2 linked regions of the Homo sapiens genome follow. The protein of the gene in region 2 purifies or fractionates together with the protein of the main gene of each other region. This does not show direct contact. Each region holds a gene or a part of one and is shown on either strand. Other genes may lie near its edges. The genes, in order: LRRC8D and OR2H2.

The links.
Region 1: the proteins of OR2H2 (region 2) and LRRC8D purify together in Homo sapiens (affinity purification with mass spectrometry; one large-scale study listed by BioGRID and IntAct). This does not show direct contact.

What each region holds. Positions count from the first base shown.
Region 1 is NC_000001.11:89,819,381-89,823,979, reverse strand, and holds the start of LRRC8D (volume-regulated anion channel subunit LRRC8D), read right to left. Parts: upstream 2,949-4,599; 5' UTR 2,689-2,948; exon of another isoform or gene 2,186-2,688; intron 2,042-2,185; exon of another isoform or gene 1,795-2,041; intron 1-1,794. UniProt on the Homo sapiens protein: Non-essential component of the volume-regulated anion channel (VRAC, also named VSOAC channel), an anion channel required to maintain a constant cell volume in response to extracellular or intracellular osmotic changes.
Region 2 is NC_000006.12:29,583,805-29,588,040, forward strand, and holds the start of OR2H2 (olfactory receptor 2H2), read left to right. Parts: upstream 1-1,316; 5' UTR 1,317-1,546; intron 1,547-3,865; 5' UTR 3,866-4,140; coding exon 4,141-4,236. UniProt on the Homo sapiens protein: Odorant receptor.

The sequences.
Region 1 (4,599 bases), on a different chromosome or scaffold from region 2:
ACACCACTGACTTGTGGTTAAGTTTTTCACGAACTAGGTTCCCTCTACCCTCCTTTATTAGTCGTATATTCTGTTCCACATCCCTGACCACTGTCAAAAGTCAATTCAGATTTCCACTCCTCCCTCAGCATACTTCATAAACTTTTATCTGGTTCCACACACCCTGGATTCTTAGACAACTGTAACTGTCTGCTTCTGCTGGCATCCTCATGTGTGCCTGTCTTATCTGCTCTCTGTGATTACTACGAGAATCCTCTCCTGCCTTGTTAAGATCCCACAGCACCCACTCCAGTTCTCTGCTTCCTGCTGGCACTCAACAAATATTAACTGGTGTTTCTTAGAATGTCAAACACCAGCTCCAATTAAAAATAACTGAAATCTCTTACAAGCTACCACTTCAACAACATAATAATCATGATTACAAAGTTTTGACAAACTTTTGACTTTAATAGCTATTTTGTCTACAGTACTGAGAACAGAATCGAGTCTAATTTCCAAACTATAGCTACCAAAACAATTTAACTATTTGGACATGACAAACACATCAGAATTTTCTAAAATTAATTTTTAAAAATGCTGCATAATATAAAAATTAAGGGAAAAGGGGCCTAGTTTTTTTCTTTTTTCTTTCCATTAAACTTTAGCGATTTTGAGAAAAAAAGGGCCAAGTTTTGACCATGTTTTTTAAATGCTGGAAAACACAGCAGGGAGAAAATGATATGAATATGGCTCAATACTTTAAGTGTTGCATCATATGCTACTCCACATGGTAATGGAAGGCTGGGTCATCTAAGGACAGTTTCCTCTCCAACCTTCTAATCTGTTAGGTTTTAATCAACACGCACACATACACTCTCAATAAAAACGAGACAAATCTAACATAGTGTTCAAATATATAAATAAACTGTGCCAATTCAAGATTTTGGAATTTTTCCCTGGCTCCATAGATTACCTAATCATTTTATGGGGGGCTCCATAAGTAACCTACAGAGACCAAACACCCCAAATCAACTTTTCGTGACCCCTGTTTTAACCACCTAATTTTCATCTCAGATTCCTCCCCATCTTGCACTTGGATTTTAACAGGGATTTAGTTAGTTGGTGTCAAGACAGATGAAGCAAGAACCCCAACTCTCGCCTAGCTGACAGTAGGTGTTTGGTCACTATTTTTGGACTGCAAAAATAAATGCTGCCTGAGGACCCCATTTACAGGATATGGTGCAGGGTTCTTCCCACAGGTCTGTAAGAAGCAGAGGTCCCAGATGCTATGGCGAGGAAGGTCTGATCACTCTCATTCTTGGCACTGGGAGGGGCCCCTTATTTGTTTATAAGGTAGACAGCCCTCATCATTACTGCAAACGGGGATTCCCTGCCTGTCCAGACTCTTCCAAAGTCCGGTACAAACCACGTAATAGGTGCTCAATAAACGCTGCCTGTACGGAATTTTACTATCAAAGCTGCCAAGGAAAGTTTCCAGAAATCAGCTCTTCCAAAATATGTCCTCAGAGTTTTCTTTGTCCAACAAAAAAATATTTTTGAAGATCCAAGAGCAGGAAATCTGCGAGGCAACGAGGAGCCAAATATAAGCCAAGCGGCTCCAGCTGGGCCCCACATTCCGCTAGGACTCCCCAGTACCTATTCCCCATCTCTCCGCCTACATCCTGAGTGCGCCCTCCCTCTCATCTCGGCTGTTTCCTTCCCACAACCCTACCTCCATACTTTCGGCCACACACACCCCAAGTGCGTGCTCCTGGAACCTCACAGCCCACCTCTCCCTCTCCAGCAAGGACCTACCTCTCTTCCCCTCGACCTGCAGCAGTTCTTCTTCACTGCAGCTGGCTTTTTAAGAAATCAAAAAATCTCATTTATCTGCAAGGGATACCCCCTAGTAAAGGGTGACGGAAAGGAGAAGGCCCCTATCAACCCTCCAGTAACTGGAGGTGCTGGTCCTCCCGGCAACCACCCCCAATTCTCCTCCTTTTCAAGCCCCTGGACAGGATTTGAGCAGAAGTCCCGCTCCCAAGAGCCCACGCCTCCAAACAAGCTAGAAGCGGATTATACCGGTACCCAACCCGGAGACGGCCCGCGGACGGCTGGGTGCACCTGCGGGCCCCCAGCTCCCTCCCACAGGCGCGGGGGGCGGGGCGCGGGCCTTCACCTCCCCGCCCCCGCCCGCCGGGCTCCCAGCGCAGCCCACCCTGCACAGGAAGGAAGCGGAGGGGAGGCGATTCTGGAGAAGTTAAAGGGCTCACCTTTGGACGCCGGGCCAGCAAGGCCAGACACCAAACACCCACCTCCGGGAGGAACCAGCAGAGCCGAAACCGGCTCTCCCCGCCTTTCCGATAGGGCGGAGGGAGGTGAGAGAAGGGAGCGCGCGCGAGGGGTTCAGGAGCCAGGAAGCCGCACTCCCCTCCCGCAGGGCCGGCCGCCCGGGGCCGAAGCGGCCGACGCTCAGACTGCAGAAAGCGGAACAATCTCCCAGGCCCTGGCGGCAGCAAACGGGAGCCCACTCCGCTCGCCGCCACCTCCTCCCGACCCCCGGACGTCCCCGAATGAGTTCCCGGCCGCAACCGCAGCTCGGGCCGCGGCGCCTGCGCCAGGGTTGCGCGCTCCGGCTCGGCGCGGCTCCACCTGCGCGTCGCCTTCCCTCGCAGCCCCCGGCCCCTGCCGGGAGAGGTGCGCACCAACCTTGGGGTGCAGCTCGGCCGCCAAGCCACGGCTTATGCTGAGGCCGGAGGTGGCGGCATCACCCGCGGCGGGCGGCGGCTGCACCGGGACGCGCCGGGGCGGCGAAGGCGCGCTGCACCCTGGACCCTGCTCCCGCGGCCCCGCCCGCGGCTGCCACCTCGAAGCGCGGCGGAGGAGCCGGGGCACCACGGGCGGCGGCAGCGGCAGCGGCAGCAGCGGCGACGGGAGCAGCAGCACATGACTCTGTAACGAGGGGAATTAGACAAAGCGTAACATGGACTCCGGGCCCGTGCAGGCGCTGCAGCTCTGGGACCAACCGCAGCCGGCGAGTGCCGCGACTGGCCCGGCCGCAGCCAATGGGGCGGGCCCGGGCCTCCATGTGATTGCGAGCGCTTTCTCCGGTGGCCCTGCAGCGCCTGACCGGACGGGGTCTGTGTGGCGAGGGAGGGGACCCGGGGTTGGAGACTGGCGGCGAGCGACTGCTAGATGCGGAGCAGGTGCTTGGGAGGGGAAGAACGGCAGCCTACATAACCATCGCCGTAATGCTCTCGCAAGCGTCCACCTGGGCAGGGCTCGGTGCCGGGCAGGCGCAGCTGCCAGTTAGCTGCGAGGCATGGTCAGGAGCCTTCACCCGTCCTGGGCGAAGGAGGCTGTCCCGTCGACTAAAACTCTGATATTAAGACTTGGCGCTGGGGGTGGGGAGTTGAATTACGTTAAAAAGTCACTTAAGTGCCTTCCAACTCTAAGGAGAAGTACTTATCTGAGCTTTGGGGCACACACAACTACTACTTGGCATGGAGAGTTTCTCAGCTTCATGTGTTCCGTCTGTTATTGAAGCTGTATTGGAAAGTCGGTTCTTGTTTTTATCTGAGCCCGCCGTTTTCATCCCATTCTTTTCGTCAAAAATATGTTACATCTGAAAGAGGCAGATGAAAAGATTATTCTATGCTAAGAGGGTTTTGCAGCCCGATAATGTCACCGTTTTTTGTTGTTGTTGTTGTAGGATCGGGGTTCATTTGCAGTCTTTTTTGTGGGTGAGCAGAGGCAGGGGCCAATAAATAAATTAAGGCGGGATATTTGGAGTTATTTGGTTGTAATAAAATATGTGGTTCAACCCAGTGCTTTCATATCTTCTTTTATCTGAATCCATGTGTTTCTGTAAACCATCGGAAGTCTAATCTGTCTTCTACCAATATCTCTCCATGTCAGCAAATGTTCAATCAACGTTTACCCAGCATCTAAATATTCTTAATAAGCATGCTGCACAAATGTTACAGGTACTCAGGAAGGTGTCGGTTCAGAGACAGTGAGACATTAAAGAGAATGATTGTCCAGGGTTTCAGAAAAGGATTCAGAGAGGAGCTGATAGAATTGACCCTTGGATGGTGAGCACTTGGCCCTCAGGCATTGGACGTGAAGAAGAGCAGCCCAAACAGGAACATGAACAGAGAGGTCCAGAATACACTCAAGGGACTGCCCGAGACCCGTTACAAGATGCCACCAGATTCTGAGCCCTCGGCCCTTTTGCTCTCACTTTCCTTCCCCGACCCTCCTTGCCAGCAGCCACTCCTGTTCCACACACTGCCAAGAAGGAGGTGTATGGGCAGGGAGTGTGTGTAAGTGATCTAATCAGTGTCAGATTTGCTGATCTAAGAGATGAGAGGTCTTTTAAAACTTAACAACTAGTGGTGTGATATTTTTATTGAAAACAGCCCACTATTATAATGAATATGGAATGTTTTGCTGTTTGTAAAAAAAAAAAAAAATTATAGGCCGGGTGCAGTGGCTCACGCCTGTAGTCCCGGTACCTTGGGAGGCCGAGGCAAGAGGATCACGAGGTCAGGAGTTAGAGACCAGCCTGACCAACATGGTGAAAACCCGTCTCTACTAAAGACACAAAAATTATCTGGG
Region 2 (4,236 bases):
CTGGTCATCTTTCAAGTTGCATCTGATATTTGTAGTGACCAGACTGGTGAATTAAATGTGAAATATGATAGAAACAAACCCCCGCACCCTTTAAAGGTGGCCTCAATCAGCCATTTCCCTTGAATTGTGATATTGTTCTTGATTCACTGTCTTTGCGGTAAGAGGTGTAGATTCAGGGCTTCCACTTCAATCTGTAGCTCGTACTCCACAGACTAAAGAACTATGTGGGGATTCTGCCAATGGCCAAGCATGTGCATTCCAGTTACAGATTTAGAGACTGCAGAAATGACTACTGGGTAGATCCATGGACCTAGTACATGCCATTTATTAGCTGATCTCATAGGCTCCCTTTCTAATGGAAGAGAAGCATAACGATTCAGTTATATGAAGATTGGCTAAATGTTCTAAGTACTCTCCAAACCCAGAGCTTTATAATTCTCTGTTACTACAGTGTGCTCCATCTCAGAATAACTAAATAGAAAAGGAGGAAGCTGAGAACTTTAAAAACTGAGGTCCTGAATAGATGAATCATAAGCCTGAGAGGACTATCAGGATGCCCGGGACTCACTGGAGGTGGGAGTAGAGACACTGTCCTTTTTCTTCCTGTTGACAGAAAGAAGCAATGAGTGACCTCTTTTACCTACCACAGTGATGACTATTGTTGGCATATTTCCTATAGATATTCCCCTGCCCCTTTTACCATAATTTGTGGCTAATGAATTGTCTGTGGGCTATGGACCCTAGAGTCTCAGCAGAATTAATGAGCTCTTTCCCTCCGTGGGATCCCTCTACCACCATACCATGTCAACATTTCTACCTCCAATGCCACTAAAACAGAGGCACACCTCTGCCTAGACTGAGGGGGAAAATTGTTGGCAAAGAACTCAATGGCAAAGAACTCGATGGCAAAGAACTCGATGGCAAAGAACTCAATGGCAAAGTTCTGACCTTGGCTTCATCCTCCCTGCAGAGATTTGGTGGGCTTTGGTTGGTGCAAACCCTCTACAGTTAGCAGATTTGGGTTCAAACATCAGCTCTGGTGCTTACTAACTATACTGCCTTGGGAAAGTTATTTATATTTCTTTGTTTCAACTTCTTCATATTGGAAGGAAGAGAATAATATGTAGAGTTGTGAAGGATAATCAGCAGTGTAGAGTAAATGTTTAATAAACAACTTGGTTGGTGGCAGATGGGGAGAGCCCTAATTTGTAGTGTTTGCCAATTTTCATAGTGTAAATATTCCTGCCATGGCTGTCTCAAGCCACTGATGGTTTAATAACTGTCTCACAAAATTCCTAAAAATTTACTAATCAAGAGATAATCTGAGCCAGCTCCAGCTCATCACACACATGTGTGCTTAGAAAAGTGCCAGATGGTCAGCATTAGCAATCCCTATTGTGACCAGAGATGCAGTTGCCCATTCAAGGATGCCCATTCCTTTTTATTTTTTTGTTTCTTCCTGATGTACAAGTGGAGGCTGGGCACCAGTTAAGAGCTCTGTCATGGGGAATTGCTGGTACCAGAAGAGATTTTTATTTGATTGAAGGTAAGCAGAACCTTTGCTCTTTGGCTGTGAGATATCAGTTTCCGCCTATCCTCAACACTGGAGGACCAGATTTGGAGTTAAACTTACTCTAAAATCCTAGTCCTAGCACTTATTGACTAGGTAACCTTCTACAAGTCTCTTGTCCCGTCTGTGACTGTTCACTTTTTGGTAAAATTGGGATAATTTTATCTCTTTGTAGGGTCACTGTGAGAACCAGATGTTCAGGGAGTTGTTTATCACCATGCTTTGATGGTAGCTACTAACAGCAAGGGTAGCTCATGGTCACTAGACTATCATAAACCCCTTTCAAAGGACCTCCCAACTCCTTCCCCAGCTCCTAACACAATGCTGGCACTTTGGGGCTCAAGAAATGAATAAATGCGTAGACCAATGCATGAATATTTCAGAAGGAAAAGGAGTAGGAGAAAAATAATGAGAGTGGAAAAGACAGAGAACAAAGAGGGAAAGGGAAACAGTCACTAAGAAAGGTGTAATCTAAAGAGATTCAGCGATATAGCAGAGAAAGGAAAGGAATGAAATGCCAAGATAATGACAAAGTTAGAAATGTAGAAAATTAATTAGGATGACACATGATGGATAAATAAGAAACAATTGGCTATTGTTTAAGGTTACATGCAAAGAATTTTATATTACAAAGAAAACAAAGGAGGGGGCGGCAGCCAATGAGCATGAGGTTTCTTTTGGGAGTAATGAAATATTCTGGAAGTAAATGGTGTTGGTTGCACAACTTGTGAATATACTTTAAACCACTAAATTACACACTTCAAAAGGGCGAATTTTATGGTACGTTAAATACATCTCAAAAAATGAAAGCGAAGGCATAATTAAAAATTTAGAGGCCAGGCACAGTGACTCATGCCTGTAATCCCAGCACTTTGGGAGGCCGAGGCAGGCAGATCACCTGAGGTCAGGAGTCTGAGACCAGCCTGGCCAACATGGCGAAACCCCGTCTCTACTAAAAATACAAAAATTAGCTAGGCATGGTCTTGAGTGCCTGTAATCCCCGCTACTTGGGAGGCTGAGGCAGGAGAATAGCTTGAGCCCAGGAGGTGGAAGTTGCAGTGAGCAGAGATCGTGCCATTGCACTCCAGCCTGGGCTATAAAACGTGACTCTAAAAAAAAAAAAAAAAAAAAAAAATTAGAATGGTGGTGACATCTTGAGGGGTGACAAATTGAGAAAATTGAGAGATCAGGGAGGGGCACACAGAAGCTTCTAAGATACTTGAAACATTTGCTCAGTTCCTTAACCTAGTTGTTTAAATATGTAACAATATTTTGAAAATTAAAAATATATTTTAAGTGAGAAAAGAATAATGGGAAAAACAGGAAGAAGACAGAGACAATGGCAGAGAGTCCTGGCAAAAAGGGAGATGTGATAGAGCTTAATACAAGATGGGGACCCTGTAAGAGGAAGACATTCCTGCCATCCTCTGAGCTCCATGGCACGTTTGTGGTGTGGCCCACCATCTCATCTCCTCCCCTCATGGCCTTCCTAAGGTCCTGTAAGACCCTGAGTCCTTGTCTCTGACCTGCCAGAGTGGCTTCAGTCTCCCACCCCCAGCCCTCAACTGACCTTCTATGCCCCAATACATCTCTATTTTAAGGAAAAAGTCCAGTCACCTCCTCTAGGAAGCTTTCCCTGATATACCCAACCAAATTGGTCAGTCATCCTACAGAACCTTTACTCTCATTCACCCAGTACATTGGTGTTACTGGCCTTTAAATTTTGGACTCTCTTTTTGGTGGTGTCTGAAAGACTACAAGATTTAGGGAGAGTGATTCTTGGAGTCTTTCGATAATGTTCCTGTGAACCCTGGTGATTTTAACATGCTTGTGGCCACTCTTGCCTCCTACTTGTAAGCTACTCATGGCAAGGACGAAGCATGTGGACCAATTTCCACCCCTCCCTGAAAGTCAGTTGGTTCAGAAACTTAGGTTGCTAAAAAGGCCAGGGCAACCAACCTGATCTCTCTATAAGTAGGGATATCTTAAAACAAAACAAAATCTCTCTCATAGATAAAACACTGTCTCTGATAAGCTTACTTGCAAATGAAAAAATACAAAATAAATGGAATGTACAGAGTTCTATAAAATTCATTCAACCAATAGAGCAATAATTGAGCCTACAGAGACAACTTATCAGAAAATTCATTCAATATACCTTACGAGATCATCCAATAGATAAGAGACAACTCTAGAACAGCATTCAGAACATAGTGGCACTCAATAAATTTCCCCTGAATGAATGAATTAATGAATTAGTGCATATTTTAATCAGCCTCCTTTGCCCTCACCCAGGAAGTCAGAGGCACCAGTGTGAGTATCCATCTGCTGTCCAGTACATTCATGGATTCCTCACTCTCACTAGACAATGTTTGACCAGGAAGAACAGGGAATGAGAAGGAGCTGCTGGATGGTGATGAGCCTTGGAAAGGGAGGCTGGGCGAGCAGAGACAGAAGAGAAACACCTACCTGCTGTGACCTCACAAACACCCAGGCTGAGTTTTGATAAGACAGGTTGAATCACACTGGAGTGACAGCCTCATCCCTCCAGGTACAAACAAGAACAGGCCATGGTTAACCAAAGCTCCACACCGGGCTTCCTCCTTCTGGGCTTCTCTGAACACCCAGGGCTGGAAAGGACTCTCTTCGTGGTTGTCCTCACTTCC